4 separate regions of the Homo sapiens genome follow, and regions 2, 3 and 4 are each linked to region 1. The links come from fine-mapping of genetic effects on gene expression. A gene starts in region 1. Each other region holds a variant in brackets. All regions are shown on one strand. Distances are between the middles of the regions. Region 1 holds the start of TTI1 (TELO2 interacting protein 1). Region 2 overlaps TTI1 (TELO2 interacting protein 1). Region 3 has its middle 63 kb from the start of TTI1. Region 4 overlaps TTI1 (TELO2 interacting protein 1).

Region 1 (7,704 bases):
GATCTCACTCTATTGCTCAGGCTGCAGTGCAGTGGCTCGATGATGGCTCACTGCAGCCTCAATTTCCTGAGCTCAAGCAATCCTCCCACCTCAGCGTTCTGAGTGGCTGGGACTCCAGGTGCATGCCACTATGCCCAGCTAATTTTTGTATTTTTTAAAGACCGAGTTTCGCCATGTTGCCCAGGCTGTTCTTGAACTCCTAGGCTCAAGTGATCCTCCTGCCTTGACCTCCCAAAGTGTTAAGATTACAGGCATGAGCTACAGTGCCTAGCCCACATTCTTTTCAAGTGCTCATAGAACATAAGACAGATGATTATCCTGCCATAAAACAAACCTCAACAAATTTAAAAGAACTGAAATCATACAGAGTGACATTCCCCAGCCACAATGAAATCAAGCTTGAAATCACTAACACAGAGATAACAGGAAAATCTCCAAATACTTGGAAACTAAACAACATGTTTCTAAATAATCCACGGAACAGAGAGGAAACCTTAAGGGAAATTAGAAAAAAAATAGGGAAATGAATGAAAATGAAAATATGACACACCAAAATCTGTGGATACAGCTATAGCCATGCTGAGATGTAAATTAATAGTACTAAGTCATATATTAGAAAAGGGGAAAAGTCTCAAACGAAAAAGGTAAACTCCTACCACAAGAACCTAGACAAAGTAGAGCAAAATAAAGCAAGCAGAAGAAATAATAAGGAGCAGAAACTGACAAAACTGAAAACAGAAAACACAGAAAGTCAATGAAATAAATAACTGGTTCTTTGAAAAGGTCAATAAAATTGACAAACTTCTAGCAAGATTGACAAGGGAGTGAGTGAGCAAGAGAGAGAGAGAGAGAGAGAGGAGAGAGAAGAGACGAGACACTGATACTGGAAATTTCCAATATCAGTAATGAAACGGGACAGTACTACAGACCCTGCAGACATCAAAGGGTAATATGGGAATGCTATGGTTTGAATATCCGTCCCTTCCAAAACTCATGTTGAAATTTAATTCCCAATGTATTGAGAAGTGGAGTCTTTATAAGCCCTCATAAATGGATTAATGGGTTATCATGGGAACTGGTGGCTTTATAAGAGCAAAACAGACCTCAGCTAGCACACTCAGCCCCCTGGCCCTGTGATATCCTGCACTGCCTTGGGACTCTGCAGAGTCCCCACCAGCAAGAAAGTTTTTTACCTGATGTGGCCCTGTGACCTTGGATTTCTCAGCCTCCATAACTGTAAGAAATACATCCTTTTTCTTTATAAATTACCCAGTTTCAGGTATTCTGTTATAAGCAACAGAAAACAAAGACAGGGAATACCACAAATAGCTTTACCCATATAAATTTGACAACTTTGATGAAGTGGTTAATTCCTCAAAAAACACAACCACAATAGGAAAGAGATTATTTTAACAGCTTTATAACTTTTAAATAAACTGAATTTGTCACTTAAAAACTCCAGAAAAAAAAGGAAGAAGGGAAGGAAGGGAGGGAGGGAGGAGGGAGGAAGGAGGAAGGAGGGAGGGAGGGAAGCAGGGAGTGGAGGGAATCTCCAAACCAAGATGGTTTCATTGGAGAATTCCGCCAAACATTTAATGAAGAATTAACACCAATTCTGCACATACTCTTCTAGAAAAAGAAGAAACACTTTCCAATCCATTTTATAAAGCCAGTATTATCCTGATACCAAACCAAAGGCAATACAAAAATTAAAAAAATCTATAGACCAATTTCTCTCATGAGTATAGATGCAAAAATCCTAAAGAAAATATTAGGAAATTCAGCAGTATGTAAAACACACACACACACACACACACACACACACACACCATGATAAAGTGGGGTATATTTCAGAGATGCAAGACTGGCTCAATATTTGAAAATCAATTAGAGTTGTTAATACTAACAAGCTATTAACAAGCTTAAGAAGAAAAATCACATAATCATATCATCCTCACCTTTCAGACCTCTATATGTTGAAGAATCCTAGGACTCAGTCTCTTTTTACACCTTATTCCGTTATGACTCTCACATTTTTATCTCTAACCCAGATAGCTCTTCCTTGAATTCCAGACCCATAAACCCAACTGCCCCTTAGACATCTATACTCAGATAGGCATTTCCAAATGGACATGTCCAAATACAAATGCTTGCTCTTACTCTCCAAACCCACTCTTTTCTGTAATTCAGTAAATGGAAGCGCTATTCTTATAGTTGCTTAGGCCAAAACCCTTGGAGCTATCTCAACTCTCATATGTCTTTCACACCCCATATCCAATCTATCAGCGGATCCTGTTACCTCTTCCTCTAAAATATCCCCAGAACTGTCCCTTTCTTACCACTTCCACAGATACCACCCTGGTTTGAGTTATCCTTTCACCTGGGTTACTACAACAGCTGCCAAACTGGTCCTTCCTGCTTCTACCTTTGCACTCTTACTGTCTTATTTTCTACCTAACAGCCACAATGCTCCTTCTTTGTGCAAAACTGCCCAGTGGACTTCATTTCATTCAGAGTAACATCTAAAGTCTATACTATTGCCTACAAGTCACCATGTGATGCAGTCCCTTCGTACTTTTCTGAACTAATTTCCAGCCACCCTTCTAGTTCATATCACTCCAGCTTTATTGTCCTCTCTGCTGTTGCTCCAAAATGCCAACAATGGTATAAACTTGGTTTTCCCTCTTCCTGGAACAATGGCATATGGCTTGTCTCTCAAATGACATCTTATCAATGAGGCCTTCTCTGAGAAGCATAAGTAAAAGACTACCCACCTACACATATACATTCCTTATCCTCCTTATCTCCTTGATTTTTATTGAAGTTACTTACCACTTTCTGACTTATTCTAAACTTGCATGTTTGTTTTTCTATCTTTCTCAGTAGAAAGTAAGTTCCTGAGAACGTGGATTTTGTCTGTTAGCTTAGAAGAGTGCTTTGGACATAGGTGCTGAAAAATTATTTTCCGAATGAATGAATAAACTATTGGTTCAGGAGGCAAGAATTTGGGATCAGACATAAGATAACCCTAATTTGACTCCTGGCTCTGCTATTTCCTAACTATGTCCAAGTACATAGGGTACTTAACCATGCTTTACATTTTCTCGTCTATCAAATAGTGATTGTAATAATTTCAACTCCTAAGACTGATGTAAGAATTAAATTTAAAAAGTATGTAATGTGCTTAATAGACAGTGACTTGGTATAAAAGTGCTCAGTATATGACAGTGTTATTAATATGGAAAGATGATCTAGATTTCGACACAAAAGCCCTCAGTTATGACTAGATACTCACTGTATGATTTTAGGTTACTCACCTCTTTTACACTAACTCACTTGATAAATCAGGAACTGGGGCCAAAAAGATGGCTAAGTTGCAGCCCCTTCCCTCAAGTCTTAGTAATGTGATCTTGGGTAGGTCACTTAACCTCTCTGAGCCTGTTTCCTACGCTGTCCAAAGGGGGATAATATAATACCTCACAGCTTTGTTGTGAGGATTAAATGAGTTACTGTGTGGGAATTGTGTCTAGCACATAGTAACCTCTCACTGCGTTAGCTATGATTATGATTCCAGTCTGGAGGAAGGGTAAAAGCATGTAAGCAAAGAACTGCAATACAGTGCAATAAGAGCAAAAGCAGGCATCAACTAGAAGAACGTCTCCTAAACTAGAGTCTGCCCACAACTAGGAAGTTATACCACGATCAGGAAATTTTAAAACCCTCTTATGTCTATAACTTAACTCCCTACCATCACCCCCGTGGCAGTAAGAAAAACAAAATTTCTCTGCTGCTTTGATACCTGGGATTTAAAACTTAAAAAAAAAATAGGGTCAAGGTTTAGAGTCTCAGATAGTGTTTTGTTTTGTTTCAGAGAAGAGTCTCGCTCCATCGCCCAGGCTGGAGTGCAGTGGCACGATCATAGCTCACTGTAACCTCTAACTCCTGGGCTCAAGGTATCCTCTCGCGTAGCTGGAACTGCAGGTGAGCGTCACCATGCCTGGCTAATTTTCGCTGTTACCCAGGCTGGTCTTGAACTCCAGTCCTCAAGCTATCCTCTCGCCTCGGCCTCCCAAAGGGTTGGGATTACAAGCAAGAGACGTTGCGCCAGGCCTCAAATAGTGTGTCTCAACATGAGGTCAACAGACACATTGGGAAGGCTAAGTTAGTTCCCTCCACCTTTTCCCTAAAGTTAACACCTCACTTAAGTTCGAAAAAGTCAACTGGACCCGCAGACGGCAAAAGCAGCACGTAATAATACCCTGAGTGAGAACCCACTTAAGAGCCGAGAGCCCAAATGTGTGTTTCATGACGGCGCTGTTACAGACTAAAAGGTCAAAACAGGACATTAAAGGGTGCTCCGGGGGGCTGAGTAGGAGCTCACCAGGTGAGAAAGGGGATGTCACTTTCGGACAGAGAACGAGCGCCAGGGCGTGGAGGCGTGAAAAGGGCACGTGGGTGGCTTGGAAGAACCAAAACTAAGTGTTTTGGGGGACAGCCAGAGAGCCGAACACATATGGAGGAAAGATGCGGCCTGGGGCCCGCCAGATTAGAAAGGAAATCCCCCTCCCATATCCAGATCATGATCTCTCAGACTCAATGTCCCCTCAGGATACCCCTCTACAGGGTCCCAGCTGCTGGGCTCCCTCTGGTTCCCGCCACTCTTCCCTTACCTCGTCTTCCAGCCTTTCTCTCACTCTCCCGCCTCCTCTGCCTCGCCGGAAGTGACGCGCTAAGTAGCGCGCCGTATCGCGCCAGAAAGGTTCCGAGGGAGCGGGAAAAAGGGTTCCGGCGAGATCCACTGCGCCGGTGTGCAGGCTCGAGCGGTCAAAGCTCTTTCCGGGGGCCCGGGGAACTACTCTCCTTGCCTCGCTCTGTCTCCTTCGAAGTGCTCTGCGCGAGGTTCAGAGCGGCCGCCGCCTCCAAAGGGACGGTTTTCTAGAGCTCCGACGCCTCTCGGTGCCCCTCTGCTCCGGCCCTTGCCCTTTGACCTCGCTCTCGCGGCAGGGTGAGAGGTCGGGTGGCCATCTTGTGGCGGCGGCGCGGGCGGCTGTTACTGCGGAGACCCATCCCCTCCCCCTTCTCGCACCCCTGGCAGTCTGTCAGTCGGTAAAAAGTCCCGCAGCCTGTCAGGTGAGGCCCCGGCCTCGTGCCGTCGCTCTTCCCGCCGCACTGGGCGGCCCAGGCCGCTCCCTGCCGGGCCTCACTGCCGCCACCATGTCCTCCTTCTCTGAGTCGGCGCTGGAGAAGAAGCTCTCGGAGCTGAGCAACTCTCAGCAGAGCGTGCAGACCCTGTCCCTTTGGCTCATCCACCACCGCAAGCACGCGGGACCCATCGTCTCCGTGTGGCACCGCGAGCTCCGCAAAGGTAAACACCAAATCCCCACCCCCTGGACGGTCCCCGGATTGTCCTCTCGCCCACATACAACCTAGGCCCCTCTAAGCCTCTTCATTGAGCCTTGCTTTCCAGGCCTGATCGAGCTTCTGAGATGGGAGACAAAGTTAGCCCCATTTCTCGAAGAAGGAAACTGAGGCCCGGGAAGGTTTAAGGTACTTGCCTGAGGGTCCACGGACTGGGACTCAGGTGTCCAGACTTCTAGTTCATCAAGCCATTTTCCCTTCAGTTTCCCCCTGACATTTGTGGCTGTTATTATCTCGGCTGCATTCACTGCCGTACTGGCCCTAGCATGTCGGGCCCAGTGCTGGGTATTTGGAGTAAAAGCCAGTGGGCTCCGGAGTCAGACTCTGCAGATCGAGTCCTGGCTCAGCTATTTGCCAGCTGAATAATACTGGGAGAGTTTCTTCATCTCCCTGTGTCTCCGTTTTCTCATCTGTAAGAGGGAGGCAAGGATAGCTACCCCTTACAAAGCCTTTACTTCATACCAGTCACTATACTAAGACCTTTGTGTGTATCCTCGCACTCAGTCCTTAGAACAGCCCTGTGAAGTAGGTAGTCTCTCCCATCTTAGGTTAAGGGGCCACCCAGACCTTACCTCTCCTCTCCTCTCCTCTCTCATGCAGTTGTCATTGATTTCAGGCCCTGCTCAGGTTCTGACAGACAATTCATTGAACTCATTCTGTTATGTGCCAGGCACTGGCTTGGACACTTGCAGCATGTTGCCTCTGCCAACTGCCTAGAATTTAAGCCTGACTTTGCCGCCTTACTGACCCCAGCAACTTAACCTGTCTGTGCCTTAATTTTCTTATCTACAGAATGGATAACTGAAATTTACTATGTCTTTATTACATGCGAAGTGCAGTACTGATATCTTTACATACATTGCCATTAAAAAAAATTCTCGGAGCCCTATGAAGTAGGAACTTTGCAGAAGAGGAAAAACTGAGACTCATCTCGTGGTGAGGAGTAAACGGGATAATCCAAATGAACATTTAGCATGGGGTGAGGCACAGTGTAGGCATTCAGCAGATTATGGTGAGATGAGACTTTTGATTACTCACTGTGAGGCATGGTCTTTACCTTCAAGTTGCTTACAGTCTGGTGGGGAAAGATGGACACCTACACTCCCGGATGAGTTTCATAATGGAAGACTGAAGAAATGAAGCTCAGAGCTGCTCCAGACACCCTATATGTGGTAGGCCTTTATAGCGAAGTGGCTTTACAAGTGTTCTATACTATCTGTGAGTTGGGGACACCACAGATGTCCTGCTCTACAGGTGAGGAAACTGAAGTGGCTAAGTGGTATTTTCAAGGCTTTCGAACTGAACAGGCTCAGACTACAACAGGCTGGCAAACACCAAAATCTTCATGATTTTTTTCAGGAGACCCAGTTCTAGCCCTTTAGCAGGGACTGCCCCCAAATATCGCGTACTGTACTGAGATAGGGATCCCCTCAGCCCTTCGGGCAGTTCCGGGAAGAGGTAGAGCCTGGAGTTTATGGGGCCTTCTTCATGTACCCCACTGTGCCATTCAGAAATTATTTGAAGAGTGTGCTGAAATGTGAATTGCCACTGTACAGAATTCTATTGGGTGGGACCTCAAGAGGCAGTTAAAGTCCATCTCAGGTGTCATTTTTTTTGTTTTTTTTTTTTTGAGATGGGGGTCTCGCTCTGTCACCCAGGCTGAAGTGCAGTGGTGCGATCTCAGCTCACTGCAAGCTCCACCTCCCGGGTTCATGCCATTCTCCTGCCTCAGCCTCCCGAGTAGCTGGAACTACAGGGGCCCGCCACCACACCCAGCTAATTTTTTGTATTTTTAGTAGAGATGGGGTTTCACTGTGTTAGCCAGGATGGTCTTGATCTCCTGACCTTGTGATGCCCCCGCCTCGGCCTCCCAAAGTGCTGGTATTACAGGTGTGAGCCACCACGCCTGGCCAAGTGTCACTTCTTTTGTGACACTTTCTTGATTCCTTGCCTCACCCTAGTTGAGTTACTGAAAAAAAGCAAATTAGAGAGTACATTTGTGTATGAAGCTCCGTTATCCCTAATCTTACGTGGTAAAGCCTTATGTTGCAAGTAGGCTAGCATTATTATCCTCATTTTATAGATGAGATGATAAAGGTATAGAGGGATTAAGTGCCTTGTCCACAGACATACAGCTAGGACATGAGCCCAGGGCTGCCTGATGCCAAAATGTGTTCTTTTTCATGTACTCAGTGCCTCAATGCATTTAATAAGTGAAGGTGGTCACCTGACTGCAATCAAACTGTGGTGCTTTCATTTATTAGAATTAATGAGTGCCTCCCACCC
Region 2 (5,000 bases), 44 kb before region 1:
TGTGAGCACCGGGCCCGGCCTACTGAATTTTTTCCTGGCCTGTTCTGTGCCCAAACAATTTACTTTTCTTTGCTAGGATAATCTTGTGTTTATAACCTCCATAGTGGTTGTTGGAGAAGTGATTAGAATATTCTAATTCATCGTTTCCACTTCACCGCAGAAAGATGAGGCCTGCGTGGGAGACAATTTTTGTTTAAAAATAAAAATATCTTTGATAATTAGAGTGGCAAGGGAAATTATGAAAAAACGCACCAAAAGCGGGGAGCAGATTTCTATTTACACGTGACACAGTTGACAGTTTTCCCTGGTGCCAAAGACTGTTAGAATGCAAATGGTTTCATTTGATTTTTTCCCCTTTCAAGAGCTGGAACAATTTCTCAAGCTACAGCGTGGTGCTCTCCCAGCTTCAAGGAATATTTTTATCTGGGCAACACCCAGCAAAGCGGTGCCACGACCCAGTTCAGTCATAGCTGCGCTCTGACTTACACAGCATGAAAATGCTGCAATGTTCATTTTCTGAGCTCTTTTTAACATGCTAAATATGAATGTCGTATTTGTTGGCAGGAAAGGAAAAGAAAATAAGCCACTCTTTTTGCCCTGCAAGATATCCACATAAAATATTAACAGAAAAGCAAAGGAAAAACTTGTGCAAAGTTCACCTTCTTTTATTAAGCAAGAGCCAAACTCTTGGAAGGACTGTTTTGGGTCTCATTTCTTTGCTTTTAAAGGGGCAGATGCCCCAGAATGGCAGGAATGCACGTTCCTTCTCCCACCTCTGTGGCTTAGAGCAAGTGATTTTGCCTCATGAACCTGTTTCCTCTTTCTCCAAAGATGATCACACCTGGCCCACTCTCCTCACAGGTCCTTCTGAGGCTCTGAGGAGAGGAGGTGCAGGACAACACTTTGAAGTATATGATGAAAACAGTATTCCTTCTTTTCTTCCAGAAAGAGAGAGAGAGGGACACAGAGTCTGAGGCATAATTAACACCACCAATCTTAGCAGCACTACCATGCCATGGATAATTTTCAGATACCCTGAAAAGGGCAAAACATTTGTCTTTTGTTTCACTCATAATTTTCTCCATACTGACTTGGTGGGGGTATCCCAGTTCTCAGCCAATGATGTTCTAATTTCGCCCATTATTTTCAGGAAGAAACAAATGCAATATACTTTGTCCTCTGCATGCCTGAGGTGGGGAGCAAATGCCATGCCATGCAACCAGATGGCTGGCAAGTGTAGCTGTGCTCTCACTCCGAGAGGCAGGCGGCCTGCTGAACTCTAAACACGACAAATTCCAAACCGCACCCTTGTTGGCTTTAAGCCCCTGGGAGCTGAGCCTGAGGCCCAGGAGGTCTGATCTGAGTCCTTAGCGCCAGGCTTTGTTCCAAACTCTGGTGTCACTTTGTCCTGGGGCCAGTTCCTGCCCAGCCTTAGCTGAAACCAGAGAGTGAACAGCTGAAAGCCAAAGTTGTTGAAAACTCCTTTTGCATAAGCCAAAGCCAGAAGACAAAGACAGGACCTCTGCTTTGAAGTGACTGGGGTAACTGCCTGGAAAATGTTCCCAATACATTTTGCGATGCGCAGGGATGGCTGTTGAACATACCAAATGGCCAGTTCCATCTTTTTTCAAACCCAAAGAGAAACACTTTTTAAAAAATATATGTACACCATTTAACTCCTGAACAAAAATTTCTTTCTCCTCCCCCCAGGCCCAAATCAGTGGCTCCAGAGAGCACAGTTATCAAGAGATTATCTGGTCCCCAGAGTATCGGGAGGCACTCAGCTGTGCCACATGCCTCCGAGTGTCCTGAGGCGAGTGATTATCTCTCAATAACCTGTAAGGCCGTGTAGCTTAAATGATAACTTGACTTTAAAAAATTTAGAACTCGCTGTTAGGCAGTTTCTAAGCAACTGTTTCCATGGCAAAGAAGCCTGGTGTTTATACTGATTTTTCACTTAAAATGCAGTTTTATTGAATTTCACTCCATGCAGGCAGCCATTTGCCTGCACTTCAGCCCTATCTACAACTGACGGCTATCAGTAAGTACCTAATAAACTCCAGATGCCAAACCAGAAGTGGCTCCTTCCTTCGTGATCAGTATGGGGGTGCCCCTAGTGAGCAAGCTGGGGGCGAGGAGGTGGGAATGGGGAGGGAGGAAACGTGCTCCTGGAATCTGGTCAGCTGGGTTTAAGTTTTATCTCTTCATGGTTTATCAAACGTTTACTAAAGCCTGGTCCAGCCCAGGCCCTAACTGAGGTGCTTGAGGCACAAAGAGAGAGGGACAAAAAAGCCTCTGCCCTCAGGGCTCCCTGTCTGCTGGGGTAGACTAAGGGATCACAGAGGCCCATGGCACACTGTTGCAAGGGCCAGCCTAGAAGTGATGTGCGGGTGGCACCAGGCATGGCTTCCTGAGGAGAGGCACGGCAAGTTGCTTCTCTGTAAAGAGCGAGTGGACCAGATCAGTTCTAAGATCCCTGGTAGCTC[C/A]AACAGACCACGAGAGTTTTCAATCATGGGCACTGGATCATTACTCACCCCACCCCACAATATGGCAAAACCAAAAAGAACCCCCTCTGCTCTGCTGCAGGAGCGAATATTACAGAATATGTTCTCACCATCTCTGTCTAGACAACATCTGCTCAAAGAGAGATCTAGAAAACCGCCAGCCAATGAGGGCCCAGTGAAGCTAAATAAACTGTAACTGAAATGCAGGGCTTCCAGCTCTCCTGGGTGACAGGCTATTCTTCCTGTGTCAATTACTTGCTTGAGGGATCTGCTGTTCTCCGTCTCTTTCTGGATTTATAAAATGCTCTCATGAGCCATCAGGGTAAATGCCAGTGGTAAAGAACATGTGGCTTTGTGATCTGTTTGTTTGCTTACTTATTTGGGGCTTCTAAAGAAGTTACTCAGAAATGTCTCCTTAGGAACACGATACAGGCTCTCTCTATGTGGGCATGGTTAAATGCAGTGGGAAAGTAAGCTCACTTGTGGGAAAGCAGGCATACTCACTAAGTTATTTTGGTGTTCCCGTTGTTCCCTCTCTGGCAGCACAGCCTCCACACTCTCCTCCTCTCTGGCCATCTCTTCTCCCATCACTCTGTGCATGCTGATGCTGCAAAGGAGGCTGTGTGTTTCCTTTTAAACAAATGGATGCTCAGGGTGTTGATGCGTCCTAGCCAGCAAGCAGTGGGGCTATGTTTCTATACTTGGTAATTTACTCTAATGGGTCTCAGTTCATTGGTTAACCAGTATTTCAAGCCTGTCCTTTCTTGCTATTCAATTTAGCTATCTTCCCCTGCACGGAGGTCGTTTTTTATTTCTAAATGTTGGAAATGGAGGATTATGACTTGAAGCAACGATTTACTCTCCAAATAAATACTACCAATTACCTTTGCAGCTATACATGCTCGTTTGACTTAACTATGTTTACCTGTTCAAAACCATTCATCTATCGATCTAACGCCAACATGCATACTCACACAGAGACCCATATCAAAAATATTTAAATGCAACATGGGCAGGACTTAAAACCGTAAACACCAGTAGAAGCAAATGATGCTAACCATACCTCTGAAGTGCCACAAGATAAAGTATCATAAATGCAGAGGAATGATTCCATTGCTTTGTGCATATTTAAAAGGATATGGCGCTGAGAGGTCCAATCTGTTATAGACAATTCAAAAATAAGCCAGAATCTAGGAGGGTTTACATCCCACTGGGGCGAGATTTAAAAGCAGCCCTTTCCATCTGGCCAGTTCTCCTGCCTCCAGGAACCCTGCAAGCCTAGATCCCACGACAGTGTATTGGGCACAGATTTCAAAGTGGCATTCTGTGCTGAGCACTATGAGGGCTGACTCGGACCTTTCCCCCAGCTGGCTGCACTCTCGGGCCACATTGTTTCCTGCCCCTCCCTGGAAGGTATGTACCCTTGAAGATAAAGACATCTTCATAGCAGCCTAGGTAGGCTTGCCCACCTCCTGCCTGAACTGTTTTCCTGTAACCTGTGCTCTGGCACTAAGCCAGCAGCCTCCACTCACGGATGCCTTCAGAAACAGCTCTAGGAAATGTCCTTCTGTATTTACTGCAAGGACGTTGAGGATATTAGTCACAACAGTACCCAGTGTTCTTTTAAGATGACCCACAGAGAAATTTTCCTCAAGCGTCAGTAATAAGGAAAGCCATGCTTCTTTCTGAAAAGCTTTCTTTCCTTTTCTTTTTAAAAACTCTTATTCAGGTACTTCCTGTACCATTTTCCTCTTTGCTGTCTGTCAGGAAGCACAGAGCCACTCTGAAAGCTCCTCTCTAGCAAGGGTGCAGGGCTCTAACTGTATTGTCTATATTAACCTCAACTCGGTCTCATCTTGTTTTTGCTGTTATTTTTCCATTTAAAAAATTTCTTCACTTCCTTCCTTTTTTCTTTGTTGCAAACAATTTATAAGATGTTCCAAGTCATTTTCGGAATAAGAAGAAATTTAAATAATGATTCACAACTACTATTTAGTGACTTTTACTCTGTGGTGGTATTTTGTGCTACCTGACTTTACTGAATCCTTGTCGTCATTGTAGTAGGTGAAATAAGCAAAATAACATACATGCTTTTTTCGGTCTTATAGATGAGAAAACAGAGACTTTGAGAAGTGAATTAATTTGCCAAGGTTATCTTGTTATTGAACAACAATGTGAGGCCTTGGTAGTTATCTCTGAAAATCTTCAACTCTCAACACAGCACTTGGCTCATCATAAGAGACCCAATAAAAATCTTTTAAAATACATCTATACAATAAGACAAATAGAGATCATCTCCCTGGCTACTTTATTTACTCAGTACTGAGACAACATTTACTTCCACGCCTCTGAGGTGTTCGAGAGGGATGACAGAGCCTGCAGAATGAGGAAATGACTACCCTGTGGTCGACCACAGCCTCTGATGACCAAAACCCACTTTGTGCAGGCGGTGCTGCGACCAGGCTCGATCTGTCATCGAGAACATTCTGCTCCCAA
Region 3 (7,704 bases), 62 kb before region 1:
TTCGATTTTCTTAAATTTACTGAGACTTGTTTTGTGGTCTATCATATGATCTATCTTGGAGAATGTTCCATATGCTGAAGAATAGAATGTATATTCTGTAGTTGTTGGGTAGAATGTTCTGTAAATATCAATATCTGTTAAGTCCATTTATTGTAGGGTGTAATTTAAGTCCATTGTTTCTTTGTTGGCTTTCTGTCTTGATGACCTGTCTAGTGCTGTCAGTGGAATATTAAAGACCCCCACTATTATTGTATTGCCATCTATCTCATTTCTTAGGTCTAGTAGTAATTGTTTTATAAATTTGGGAGTTCCAGTGTTAGGTACATATGTATTTAGAACTGTGATATTTTCCTGTTGGACTAGTCCTTTTATCTACGTAACGTCTCTCTTTGTCTTTTTAAACTGCCGTTGCTTTAGAGTTTGTTTTGTCTGATATAAGAATAGCTACTCCTGCTTGCTTTTCGTGTCCATTTGCATGGAATATCTTTTCCCATCCCTTTACCTTAAGTTTATGTGAGACCTTATGTGTCAGATGAGTGTCTTGAAGACAGCAGAAACTTGGTTGGTGAATTCTTACCCATTATGCCATTCTGTATCTTGGAAGTGGAGCATTTAGGCCATTTACATTCAATGTTAGTATTGAGATGTGAGGTACTATTCTATTCATCCTGTTATTTGTTGCCTAAATACCTTTTTCTTCATTGTGTTATTGTAATATAGGTCCTGTGAGATTTATGCTTTAAGGAGGTTCTATTTTAGTGTATTTTGAGGATTTGTTTCAAGATTTAGAGCTCCTTTAACAGTTCTTGTAGTGCTGGGTTGGTAGTGGTGAATTCTGTCAGCATTTGTTTGTCTGAAAAAGACTGTATCTTTCCTTCATTTATGAAGTTTAGTTTTGCTGGATACAAAATTCTTGGCTGATAATTGTTTTGTTTAAGCTGGCTAAAAATAGGACCCCAATCCCTTTTAGCTTGTAGGGTTTCTGCTGAGAAATCTGCTTTTAATCTGACAGGTTTTCCTTTATAGGTTACCTGATGCTTTTGTCTCACAGCTCTTAAGATCCTTTTCTTCATCTTGACTTTAGATAACCCAGTGACTATGTACCTAGATGATGATCTTTTTGCGATAAATTTCCCAGGTGTTCTTTGAGCTTCTTGTATTTGGATGTCTAGATCTCTAGCAAGGCTGGGGAAGTTTTCCTCAATTATTCCCTAAAATATGTTTTCCAAACCTTTAGATTTCTCTTCTTCCTCGGGAACACTAATTATTCTTAGGTTTGGATGTTTAACATAGTCCCAAACTTCTTGGAGGCTTTATTTTTTAAAATTCTTTTCTTTGTTTTTGACAGATTGGGTTAATTTGAAAGCCTGGTCTTTGAGTTCTGTAGTTTTTTCTTCTGATTGTTCAATCCTATTGCTAAGACTTTCCAGTGCATTTTGCATTTCTCTAGGTGTGTCTTTGATTTCCAGAAGTTGTGATTGTTTTTTATTTGTGCTATTTCACTGAAGAATTTTTCTTTCATTTCCTGTATCATGTTTTTGATTTCTTTAAGTTGGACTTCACATTTCTCTGGTGTCTCCTTGATTAGCTCAATAATTGACCTTCTGAATTTTTTGGGGGGAATTCAGAGATTTCATCTTGGTTTGGATCCATTGCTGGTGAGCTGGTATAATCTTTTGGGGGTGTGAAAGAACCTTGTTTTGTCACATTACCAGAATTGTTTTTCTGGTTCCTTCTCATTTGGGTAGACTATGTCAGAGGGACGATTAGGGATTCAGGGGCTGCTGTTCAGACTCTTTGGCCCCATGGGGTGCTCCCTTGATGTGGTGCTCTTCCCCTTCCCCTAGGGATGGGGCTTCCTGAGAGCCAAACTGTAGTGATTGCTTTTGCTTTTTTGGGTCTAGCCACCCAGTGGAGCTACTGGGCTCTAGGCTGGTATTGGGAAGCATCTGCAGAGTCCTGTAATCTGTAATGTGATCCATCTTCAGGTGTTGCAGCCATGGATACCAGCACCTGCTCCTGTGGAGCTAGCAGGGGAGTGAAGTGGGCTCTGTGAGGGTCTTTGGTTGTGTTTTTGTTTAGAGTGCTGGTTTTGAGTTGGTTGGCCTCCAGCCAGGAGGTGGTGCTTTCAAGAGTGCATCAGCTGCGGTCCCACACGGAGGAAGCAAACTTGCCCTAGAGACAACTGGTTAAGTATTCAGGATTCTCAGGCAGTGGGCAGGGCTGCAGAGCTCCCAAGAGATTACGACTTTTGTCTTCAGTTACCAGGGCAGGTAGAGAAAGACCACCAGGAGGGGGCAGGGAAAGGCATGTCTGAGTTTAGCTTCTCCTTGGGCAGGGCTTACTGCAGCTGCTGTGGGGAATAGGGGACTGTTTCCCAGTCCAGTGGAGTTATATTCCCAGGGGGATTATGGCTGCCTCTGCTGAGTCATACAGGTCACCAGGGAAATGAGGGAAAGCTGGCAGTCATGGGCCTCACCCACTCCTATGCAGCCTGCAGTCCTAAAGGCTGGTCTCACTCCTACCATGCCCCTCCAACAGCACTGAGTCTATTTCCAGGCAGCCGGTGACCAGGGCCGAGAACTTGCCCCAGACCACGAGCCTCCCTGTTGAGAAAGCAAGCAGACTCACAGGTTTTTGGCATCTCAGGGAGCCTGCAGCAGTGATCCAGTTCCTTTAAAGGGTCTGTGGATTCTCTCGGCTTTCCTAGTATGTACCTGTAGTAGTTCTTGGAGCAAAAGTTCACGATGTGAGTCTCCACTGGCTGCTCTGTCCATCCGAGCGGGAGCTGCAAGCTAGTCTGGCCTCCTATCTGCCATTTAATCTCATCACATGTAGTGATTTTTAGATTAATCCATATTACTGTGTATATCCAGTAATATGGATATTCCTTTTAATATGTGTATTCCTTTTTGGGTAGTATTCTGTTGTATGGTTATGTCACAATTTTTTAACCATTTTTAACCATTCTTCTATTGATAGACATTTGAATTGTTTCCAGTTTGGGCTGTTACGTATAAATCTGCTATGAACATTCATATACAAGTCTTTGTGTGGACATGTTTTCATTTGTCCTGGGCAAACACCTAAGAGTGGGGTTGCTTTAACTTTATACGAAACTCCCAAACTGTTTTCCTAAGCAGCTATACCATTTTGCATTCCCATCCACAATGTACGAGTTCCAGCTGGGGAGCAGAGGTTATTTTTAAAGCATGAACCCAATGCCGTCTTGACTGGAGGTGATGGCAGAAACACTTTAGAATAAAATGCTAGAAATGGTAATGAAGGCTCCAGGAGGGCACAGACTCCAAGTGTCCTGTTTCCTGCTGCATCCCCAATGACTAGCACAGGGCTTGGCTCCTGGCACCCGCTCAATAAATGAATCAGTGAATAAAAGATTTGCCTCTGACAGACATTAACAGCTTATAAGTGTTGGGTCAAAGTTTGGACCTACTGCATCTTATTTAATCAAAAGAAGTTTTAGGAGCCCTGGTTTCTCCTTCCCCA[A/T]GTTTCATTAGACACTTAATTTTCAACTAGTTGGCATTTCTACCTGGTTACTACAATATCTGCTGACTCTAGTCTGGCTTCCCTTCACAGCCCGAGACGGCCACTCTGCCTCCCATCACTGAGTATGCACTTCAGCCAGCAGAAAGGAGGACATGGGAAGAGAACACACCCTGTATTTATGGAGACTTGGCTGTAGTTGCAGATCATTTCTGCTTATCTGTCATGGGCCAGAACTTGGTCATATGGCCACATCCAGCTGCAGGGAGAACTGGAAACCATGGCCTTTATTTGGATCAGCTGTATGCCTAAATACCAGGACCCTGTTGCTAAGAAGGGGAGGACAGACAATGAATCACTTCTATTGAATGAATGATAATAATGGCAGGCCCTAACCTGAGCCTGGCTTTGTCCAGAACTGCTGTAGGGACTTCGAGGTCAATATGCCATATTATTCAGAAAACATGTTTATTTTTCAACTCCAGGGAGAATCCTTTCAATTCATACACAAAAGAAAGCAAGGCTGGTGAGTACGGAAGGTGTCTCACTCAGCACTTCTTGTCCCTGCCCCTGGCCACACAGGCCAGCCACTTGGATTCCTCCTCAAGGTGGTCTGCTTCAGCTACAAGGGGCAGGGAGCATTTGAAGGATGGTGCATTCAAAGAAGGGGGAGCTAATGATGGGATGGGGACATGGACATATACCACTGGCCTCTCTGGGAACCAAATGGCTCCCTCTGAGTGACCTACCTTAAGAAGCTCTGGTGTGCTAAGCAGACCCCAGCTGGGCCACCATGGTCTACAGATACACTCAGTAAGGGAAGCAAGTGAGAGAGAGGAGGGGATCCAGGCAAGGGTAACTAGGATGTGGAAGGGACTTGAAATGTATCTGTGTTTTGTTTCCAGGATATCTTATCATGAGTTCTTCCAGAAGCAGGTACTGAGACAAAGAATTGAGGGCAGGTAGTTCATTTGGACCTAATCCCAGGAAGCACCAGTAGGGACATGGGGAAGTGAGACAGGGAAAGAGTGCAGGGTCAAGGAAGTTATACCACTGTGCCCAAGTGGGGCTCAGTCCTACTAGGGAACTGTGGGAGCCAGTGTAGAATACACACCTTGAAGTTACCCTGCCCAAGGGGTTGGGTTTAAGAGTTTAAGAAAGAGGAAAGAAAGATGAAATGCAGCTCAACATTAAATCGGCCAGAAGCCCCTCTCAGGTTTATTTCTCTAAGATAAACCTGTCTTTGACTGTTGAGCCTCATTTCCTGTTTCTTTCCTCTTTCTTTAACTCTTACACTGGGGAGCTGTGATTTTTACACATCAGTTATTGGCTGAGGGTTGCTCCCAAGACCTGCTTAATTCACCAGGACTTCTGGCCTGCCAAGCGTGGAGACAGAAGGCCTTCCTTACCTGCAGAAAATCCTTAGTCAAAGAAATCAAATGCAGGGCAGCTGGAAGTTGGCTGGAGCACACCGAGGTGGTAAGCCCTGACGGATGTGGAGTGGGCACTGGGTACTTACTGTCTGCTACAAAGGATGAAGCCAACATCAATTACACATGCTCTCGTTCTGTGACACACACACACGCCTCTTGCACACCTCTTACACTGGCTTCATTTTTCCTGACTCACACTGCTCCCTCTCAACACAACACCTTTGCATATGCCATTCTGGATGTCTGAGCCACTCTTCTACTCTTTCTGTTCCCCCTTCCATGAGTTAAGTTCTACTTATTCTTCAGATCTTGGCTCAAATGCCCCTTCCTCTTGCCCCCTCCCACCCCAGGGCAAGATCAGGTCCTCCTGTTGCACATTGTCCCAGCTCCCTGGCCTGTAAGTGTGTCATTATAGGTCTTTAAGTTTAGGTGATTAATGCTGTCTCCTCCATCAGACTGTGAGGAAGGGATCCTCCCTTTCTTGTTTACAGTGACACACAGTAGGGACTCAAAAAATGTATGTTGAATGAATGAATGAATCAATGCCAGTCTGATCGACTAAGGCTCCCTATAGCTAGAGAGGGAATTTACCAGCTAAAGATCCCAGGAAGAGAAGGCGGCTAATTAGCAATTCATTAGGATCCATTTTCACATCTATAGTCAATGCTAATCACTTGTTTGTTTAAAACAGGAAGTTCTGCACTCATTAAAGCCATTACTAAATGAAAATGTTTCTCATGGAAGTCTGGCCTCCCACACTGGAGTGTAAACTCAAGGACTGCACCCCCTCTTTTGTGTAGACTTTCCAGAAATCAGCAAAGCAGGTGCTCACAAGCTGGAAATACCCTGGGTTAGGACCCTAGTGTTTGCTGCCAGTGGGACCTTAGGAACCAGGCCCTTCAGCTCTGGCTGGGAGTGGCCTGGCAAGGGTGAGCTCTGCCCATCATTCCTCATCCACCCTATTCCACCCTGCAGAAAAGCCCCAGAGAACAACTTCCCTATGGCAATGCTACCCACCCATTACTCACGCACCTATTGGGTGCCCGCCAGATGTACAGCCCAGGCCCACCTCTCGGGTATTGAACAGACTGGCCTGCTTTCCTGAAGTTTCACCTTTTTCTTTATCTTCATTGCCCACTGCCCCCACCTTACATCAACACGAGCAACACCTTAAATGTGTTGTTTGAGCCTTTGTACCTGCTGTTCCCTCTGTCCAGAGCGGGCCTTCCCTGTGTGTACTTCATGGGCAAATACTGCAATGCCAGCTTGGTGGTGTCTCCTCCATGAAGCCTCCCAATTGCCTTTTGGTTCAACCTCTGGGCTGCCATTTATATTTTTGAATATCATCATCTTCATGGTGGTGACCAACTCTGATAGAGCACCTCCCAGGGGCCAGCCGGTCCCTGAGTCTATCACTCTACCACTCTGGTGTCCCATGCTCCCAGGGAGGTACTGTTCTTATTTTCATTTCGTCAAGGCTAAGAGTCCTGAAGAGACTTTCCCAAGGCCACATGGCAGGCCTTCTTATCTCCAGAGCCCATGAGCTTAACTGCCGCTCCCTACCTCCTCCCAATGCAGACTTATTGCTGTCTTCTCACACGAACTTGCCCTGTTTAGCTCTCCTGTAAGCCTAGCTCCTAAGAGGCAGTATACATGTCTTTTTGTCTCTGGGGCTGGCACATAGAAAGCCTTGAAAAATACTTGTTGAAATTTCCAACCAGCAGATTTCAGATCCTGTTCCATAAACCCTGTTGTAACTGATCATGCAACTGATCAGTAGCCTCCTGTTAGAATCCTGTCTTTGCTCTTAATGTCTCTGGAGGAGTTACTGGATATGTCAGTCATCATGACCATGAGATGAAGCGGCAAGTCATGACCCTGTCGTGTGTCTCTGTCAGGTGCTGAAGATGCAGAAAGGAATATGACTCCTACATGAGAAAAAGGCTGCAAGCCCCACGCAGAGCTGTGGCGAGGAGGGCGGCATTGCAGTGCCCTGATTTCAACATGGGTAGTCAGGAAAAGCTCCGAGGCCTGACCTGCCTCTCTTGGGGTTCTGAGGGGGCTCAGATGAGCTAGGGCATGGGCGGGAGATCATCTTCCTACATGCCCACGGGGATACAACCCATTCCCTGAGAGGCATCCTCTCCAAGATTCCTTTGCTTATTTTTTGCTTATTATTATTATTATTATTATTATTTTTTAGACGGAGTCTCACTCTGTCGCCCAGGCTGGAGTGCAGTGGTATGATCTGAAGCAATTCTCTGCCTTAGCCTCCTGAATAGCTGGGATTACAGGCGCCCACCACCACGCCCAGCTGATTTTTTTTTTTTGTATGTTTAGTAGAGACGGGGTTTCACCATCTTGGCCAGGCTGGTCTTGAACTCCTGACCTTGTGATCCACCCACCTCGGCCTCCCAAAGTGCTGGGATTACAGGCGTGAGCCACTGTGCCCAGCTACTTATTTGGATTAAGCATTGCTTCCCCTTCTCCCAGCCCTGGTTCCCCTCGAGAAACACAAAGCACAAGCGAGGGACCCAAGATGATGTTAGGCCCCTAATACCAAATGTGAGTTTGCCATAGGATTATAGACACATAAACGCCTTCTATTTTGATGACTTTTTTTGTGTGAGTGGATAAGCTACACATGAATAGGGTTTAAAAAAATGTCAAGGGTGTATGGGGTACTTGTGAGAAGACTTCTCATCACTGATCCTGTCACCCTTCCTAGAAGCTGAAGGCTGCCACTTGGGTGTCCTTTAAGAGAGAA
Region 4 (5,000 bases), 22 kb before region 1:
GATATGCTGCAAAGATTATTTCTAGATTCAAGGCTGGTGACAGACATTAAAATGTCTTTGCTCACAAATGGCTTTTAAACATATGAAAAGAAGCTCAATCTCACGTTTAATGCAAATTAAAACTATAATAAGGTGCTATTTTTCTCCTATTGGATTAGCAAAGATCAAAAGCTTGGTAATACACAGTGTGGGTGATGGCGTGGCAAAACTGGCACTCTCGTACATTGCTGATGGAGTTTAAATTGGTACAACCTCTTAGAGAGCAATTTGATACTCTCTCAAAAATTTAAACGTAATACCCTTTAAACCAGCATTTTTTTCAGAAATTCATCCTATTAATATACTGAGACATGTCCAAAATGACCTACAAAGATATTCAATGCAGCATTTTTTGTGGTGGCCAAAGACTGGAAATGACCAAAATGTCTACCAAGAAAGGACTGGTTAAATACACTATGGTGCAGACGCGTGATGGAATACTATGCAGCCATAAAAAGAATGCAGCAGCACATTCTCCAAGTTGTGAAGTATGTGACATAAATACTTATTTTCAAAGCTACCCTATTTTTTTCTTGTTATGAATAATCAGCTAACCAGCAGTTGGGATTAAGCAGTAATTAACTGATGCTTCTTGCCCTTACCGTGGCACCTAATGCTTTTTTAGTCACTGCATGTGACACACTATGTTAATGATAACTCAATTTCCTAAAGCTCTTACTGGGTTCTTCTAAGGCCTTTCAGAAGTTCTCTGAGAACACATTTCCACACCCATCTTAAAAGAGTGGACGTCAGTTAGATAATTCTATGACAAACAGAAATGACAGCAAAAGGTACTACTCTGATTTATGAGTGACTATACCAACTCCACCTGAGTACTACTTCCTGTTCAAAAAGTGAGTGTATTCTGGGTTATTTCAAAACTTTCATAAAAGCTAGCTCTAAGTTTGCTTCTGTTCCAAGGAAGCCCCAGAGTCAGTCTTAACCATTCAATTTTCCTTTCTGCAAGGGAGACCCTCTCCCTCCACCTCATTTTTTTTTTTTTAAAAGCACTACAAAGCTACACAGGAGTCTTGACACTCCTCCTTCAGAGATGACCGAAGACATCAGCAATCTAAGACAATTCAATTTTGAAGGCCCAAATTCAGATACCTCTTGAGAGATATATTTCACAGGGCTTTTCTTAACCTACATTTTAAAAATTTCAAATTGAAACATAGCATAGGTCGCTAAAGCAGTACAGGTGGGATATATTTGGCCCATGGAAGCCAGTCTTAGTCTGCATAAGCAACCAGTCAGTCCTATGAGGGGCTCCACGAGGGCAGGCCTAAGTGGGTCTTATTCATGGCTGACTCCCCAGTGACTAGCCCACTACACAGGCTTCCAAGTAGCTGCAAAATAAAATCCAAACTCCTTCTCTTGCTCCTCAAGGCCCTACCAGGATTTGTCCTTGCCCTTCTTTCCAACTTCATCTTGCAACACTCTCTACAAAGGCCTCTTTTCCATTCTCCAAAGACCCATGCCCCTTCTTCCTTCTGGGCCTTCCCACCTGAATTTTTATTTATTTATTTTTTTTTTTGAGACAGTCTTCCTCTGTCACCCAGGCTGGAGTGCAGTGGTGCAATCATGGCTCACTGCAGCCCTGACCTCCCTGGGCTTAGGTGATGCTTCTACCTCCCAAGTAGCTGGAATTACAGGCATGTACCGCCACTCCCAACTAATTTTTTTCCATTTTTAGTAGAGACGAGGCCATACTAGGTTGCCCAGGCTGGTCTTGAACTCCTGGGCTCAAGCAATCCGCCCACCTCAGCCTCCCAAAGTGTTGAGATTACAGGTGTGAGCCACGGCACCCGGCCTGAATGTTCTTAAAAATAAATGTGATAGCCCCCTATGTGTTGATGGGCCTTTCTCATCCTTCAGGTTTTGGCTTTAGTGTTGCTTCCTCAGAGAGGCCCTCCCTGACCACTGAACTTATAGGAGCCTGTGTCTGTTACACTGAGGTGTTTATTTCCTTCACGGTGTTTATCAGAATCTGCCGTGAGCTTGTCTAATGATTTGTTTACTTGTTTATCATCTCTCTTGCAGTGGCAGGGAAGTTCCATGAGTTTATTCGTCTTTTTCTCTGCTCTATCTTCATTACTTAGCACAGTGTCTGACATATGGCAGGCACTCTTGAATGAATGAATGAAAAAGGAACATTTATGCTGAACGTGAATGCTCATGCATGAATAAACAAACACTGGAAATGGCATTAGCTACAGGGCAGTGCACTGTCCCTGCCCCAGTTACCTTCCATGAGAATGTTTCTTACAAGGTCTTGGCTTTTTCAACTGACAAAATGAGGCCAGTGACCATTCCACCTTCTCAGAGGCTATTAGCAGTACTGAGATAAATACTGGAAATATGCTCTTTAAATAAAAGGGACCCAAGCTATACAGCTTATTATTTTCTCATTGAAAGATTGACTATCCAGTTGAAGGATTCCTTTCCTTATAATTGAAGTCCAAAATTTTGCCATTCCTTTTTTTTTTTTTTTTTTTTTGAGACAGAGTCTCACTCTGTCACCCAGGCTGGAGTGCAGTGGCGCGATCTTGGCTCACTGCAAGCTCCGCTTCCCAGGTTCAGGCCATTCTCCTGCCTCAGCTTCCCAAGTAGCTGGGACTACAGGCGCCCGCCACCACGTCTGGCTA[AT/A]TTTTTTTTTTTTATTTTTTAGTAGAGACGGGGTTTCACCATGTTAGCAAGGATGGTCTCGATCTCCTGACCTCTTGATCCGCCTGCCTTGGCCTCCCAAAGTGCTGGGATTACAGGCATGAGCCACCGCCCCCAGCCAATTTTGCCATTCTAATAGTGGCTAACATCTTCGGTAAGCACCCAATAGGATCAGTGGGAAGAAGAGAAACTTAAACCAACTCACACAATTAAAAGGTTAAAAGGAAGTTTCTAGACCTGCTCTGTCCAGTATGGTAGTCACTAGCTACATGTGGCTATTAAAATTAAGTAAAATATAGAATTCAGTTCCTCAGGTGCACGAACCACATGTGTATAGTGGTAACTGTACTGGATAGAACGAATAAAGATTATTTCTATCATCAAAGAAACTTCTCTTAGTACCGTTCTAGACAATATGTGACTGAATAATTCACGTTATATCTGTTCTTCATTAGCATAGATACTGCTAACTCTATGCATCATCAGAAGCAGTTTGCTATACTGGAAAGAACAAAACTGTCATAAATCCTGATTTTATCATTTATTAATTGTGTGACCCTGGCTAAGTAGGATGTCACTGACCCTTAGTTTTTCTTATTTATAAAATAGAAATAATATTTACATTTATTCTGCAGGGTTTATACCCTGGCATAGAGCAGGAGCTCAATAAATGGTAGAGATTACTGAAAGTATAAAAGATAAACAGTGAAACCCCCCCATAACCTATGGGACTGGAGAGAAAATGATTAAAACGTCCTCCATAGCATCACCACAAACAATGCAAAAAACGAGGCTAAGCAAACTAGGAGACTGAGTCCTGTCCCCCACACATCAGCATTAAAAAGGGCTCTCAATGTACCTAATGCTGCCATCAGAGCATGCAGAACGCTGACAAAGGAAGCAGCTCTCTTATCGTAAAATTGGTCCAGGGTGGCCAAGACATCTTGAACCACATCTGCCACCAAAGGAAGCAGGTTAGCATCTGAGTTCCGCAGCATGACTTCCAGGACCTTTGGGGTATGAGGATGCAGAGCCAGATGACGCAGATTTAAAGAGATCCCATTCACTAAATAGTCTGAATTTTGATTGATCAGGTGCTGCAGGGAGTCGTAGCCACAAGCACGGCAAACGTCCATCATGGTGCTGGTAGCCACCTGACTAATGAGTAGGGTTTGGTCTCCAGCCTTCTCCAGTACTGGATAAAGGGCTGACATCAAGAGCAAACAGAAGTCTTTTCCTAGTGCATATGCAAACTGGCCAATTCCTTCCAACTGAATGCATATTTGCCAGATGTTACTGTTCATGGAGCAAATAGTGGGACTTGGCTTTGAGAAGGCTAGAAAAGATGTAACTTGGCAGGTGTGTTCACCAGACGTGATGGCTTGGAGGCCTGGGTGCTCCATCATCAGCTCCTCTCCCATTTCCTCAGTTTCAAGACAGGTAACCAAATACCAATTTTCTTGACTTGTGTATTCTTCAAGTATAGATGTCACAATCTCTCTCAGTTCTTCTGGGTTTGTTTTAATATGTTTTTCGTGAAGATCCTCAACCTCCAGCCCAGCAGCCCCTGTAACCAGTTCATTAAGGATCATGGCAGCTTGCTTCCGGTAAACCACAGATTGATGGTAAAGTTCCATAAAGTGATCCACAAGCAAATAAAGATTCCCATAATAACCAAGTAGCTGACAAACCTGCCTCAAGAGCATGAAGATTCTCTCATCAGTGAAGAAGCGGAAATATCTCCTCTGGATGCGGTTCCAAGGCTGTGTGGCTGAGGTCTTTGGAGAAGCATTCAGATCATCAGAGTTCCAACGCCGTTCCTCAACAATCTTGATGTCAGCCACGTCTAGCTCTAGAACTTGGATGAGTGCTTTGGAAAGCCGCTGGAGATGGGCCACAGAGTTGAGGACAAAGTTTATTTTTGGGCCCAAGAGTTTCAGATAACCAAGTAACAAGGAAAGAGTAGAGAATTTGCCCTGGTCATCTTGGGAGTTCATTAGGCGAGGAAGAGATGTGGCAAGGGAATGCAGGCTTTCTGACAAGATGTCAGCGAGGGCTTTGTTGCCCACCACTACTTTTTGATCTGCAAAATGTCTCAGAACTTTATTGCACTGGGCTTGGATTTCAGGACTCTCATCATTTACTAGTCCCACTAAGGCCTTCAGAAGGGGACCAGCACATTCGACCAATGATTGACTGCACTTCAAAAGAAGGTCCTCCACAAGTTCTACCAGTTCCAGTCTCACCTTCCAGTGTGGGTGAACAGAAACACACTCAATTATCTTTTTAATAAG

The links. PIP is the estimated chance that this variant, and not a neighbour inherited with it, causes the effect.
Region 2: its variant is the best candidate, but not a certain one, in a credible set for the expression of TTI1 in tibial nerve (GTEx, PIP 0.70).
Region 3: its variant is the best candidate, but not a certain one, in a credible set for the expression of TTI1 in cerebellar hemisphere (GTEx, PIP 0.57).
Region 4: its variant is the best candidate, but not a certain one, in a credible set for the expression of TTI1 in whole blood (INTERVAL, PIP 0.67).

Annotation. Positions count from the first base shown.
Region 1 is chr20:38,028,734-38,036,437 of GRCh38, forward strand. TTI1 (TELO2 interacting protein 1) reads right to left here and starts at 4,723. Exons shown (of 8, transcript NM_001303457.2): 1 at 4,671-4,723. RPRD1B (regulation of nuclear pre-mRNA domain containing 1B) reads left to right here and starts at 5,013. Exons shown (of 7, transcript NM_021215.4): 1 at 5,013-5,365. The coding sequence starts at 5,215. LOC124904898 (a long non-coding RNA gene) reads left to right here and starts at 5,373. Exons shown (of 2, transcript XR_007067579.1): 1 at 5,373-6,672. RefSeq lists enhancers at 4,454-5,049, 4,580-4,849, 5,050-5,645.
Region 2 is chr20:37,985,806-37,990,805 of GRCh38, forward strand. All of the region lies in intron 7 of TTI1 (TELO2 interacting protein 1), which reads right to left. Among named protein-coding and RNA genes, the nearest start is that of TTI1, 45 kb to the right of the region's middle. RefSeq lists an enhancer at 4,780-4,859. The variant C/A (reference allele first, on the strand shown) is at 2,487.
Region 3 is chr20:37,966,801-37,974,504 of GRCh38, forward strand. No RefSeq gene overlaps it. Among named protein-coding and RNA genes, the nearest start is that of TTI1, 63 kb to the right of the region's middle. The variant A/T (reference allele first, on the strand shown) is at 3,508.
Region 4 is chr20:38,007,950-38,012,949 of GRCh38, forward strand. TTI1 (TELO2 interacting protein 1) reads right to left here. Exons shown (of 8, transcript NM_001303457.2): 2 at 3,566-5,000. Among named protein-coding and RNA genes, the nearest start is that of TTI1, 23 kb to the right of the region's middle. The variant AT/A (reference allele first, on the strand shown) is at 2,688.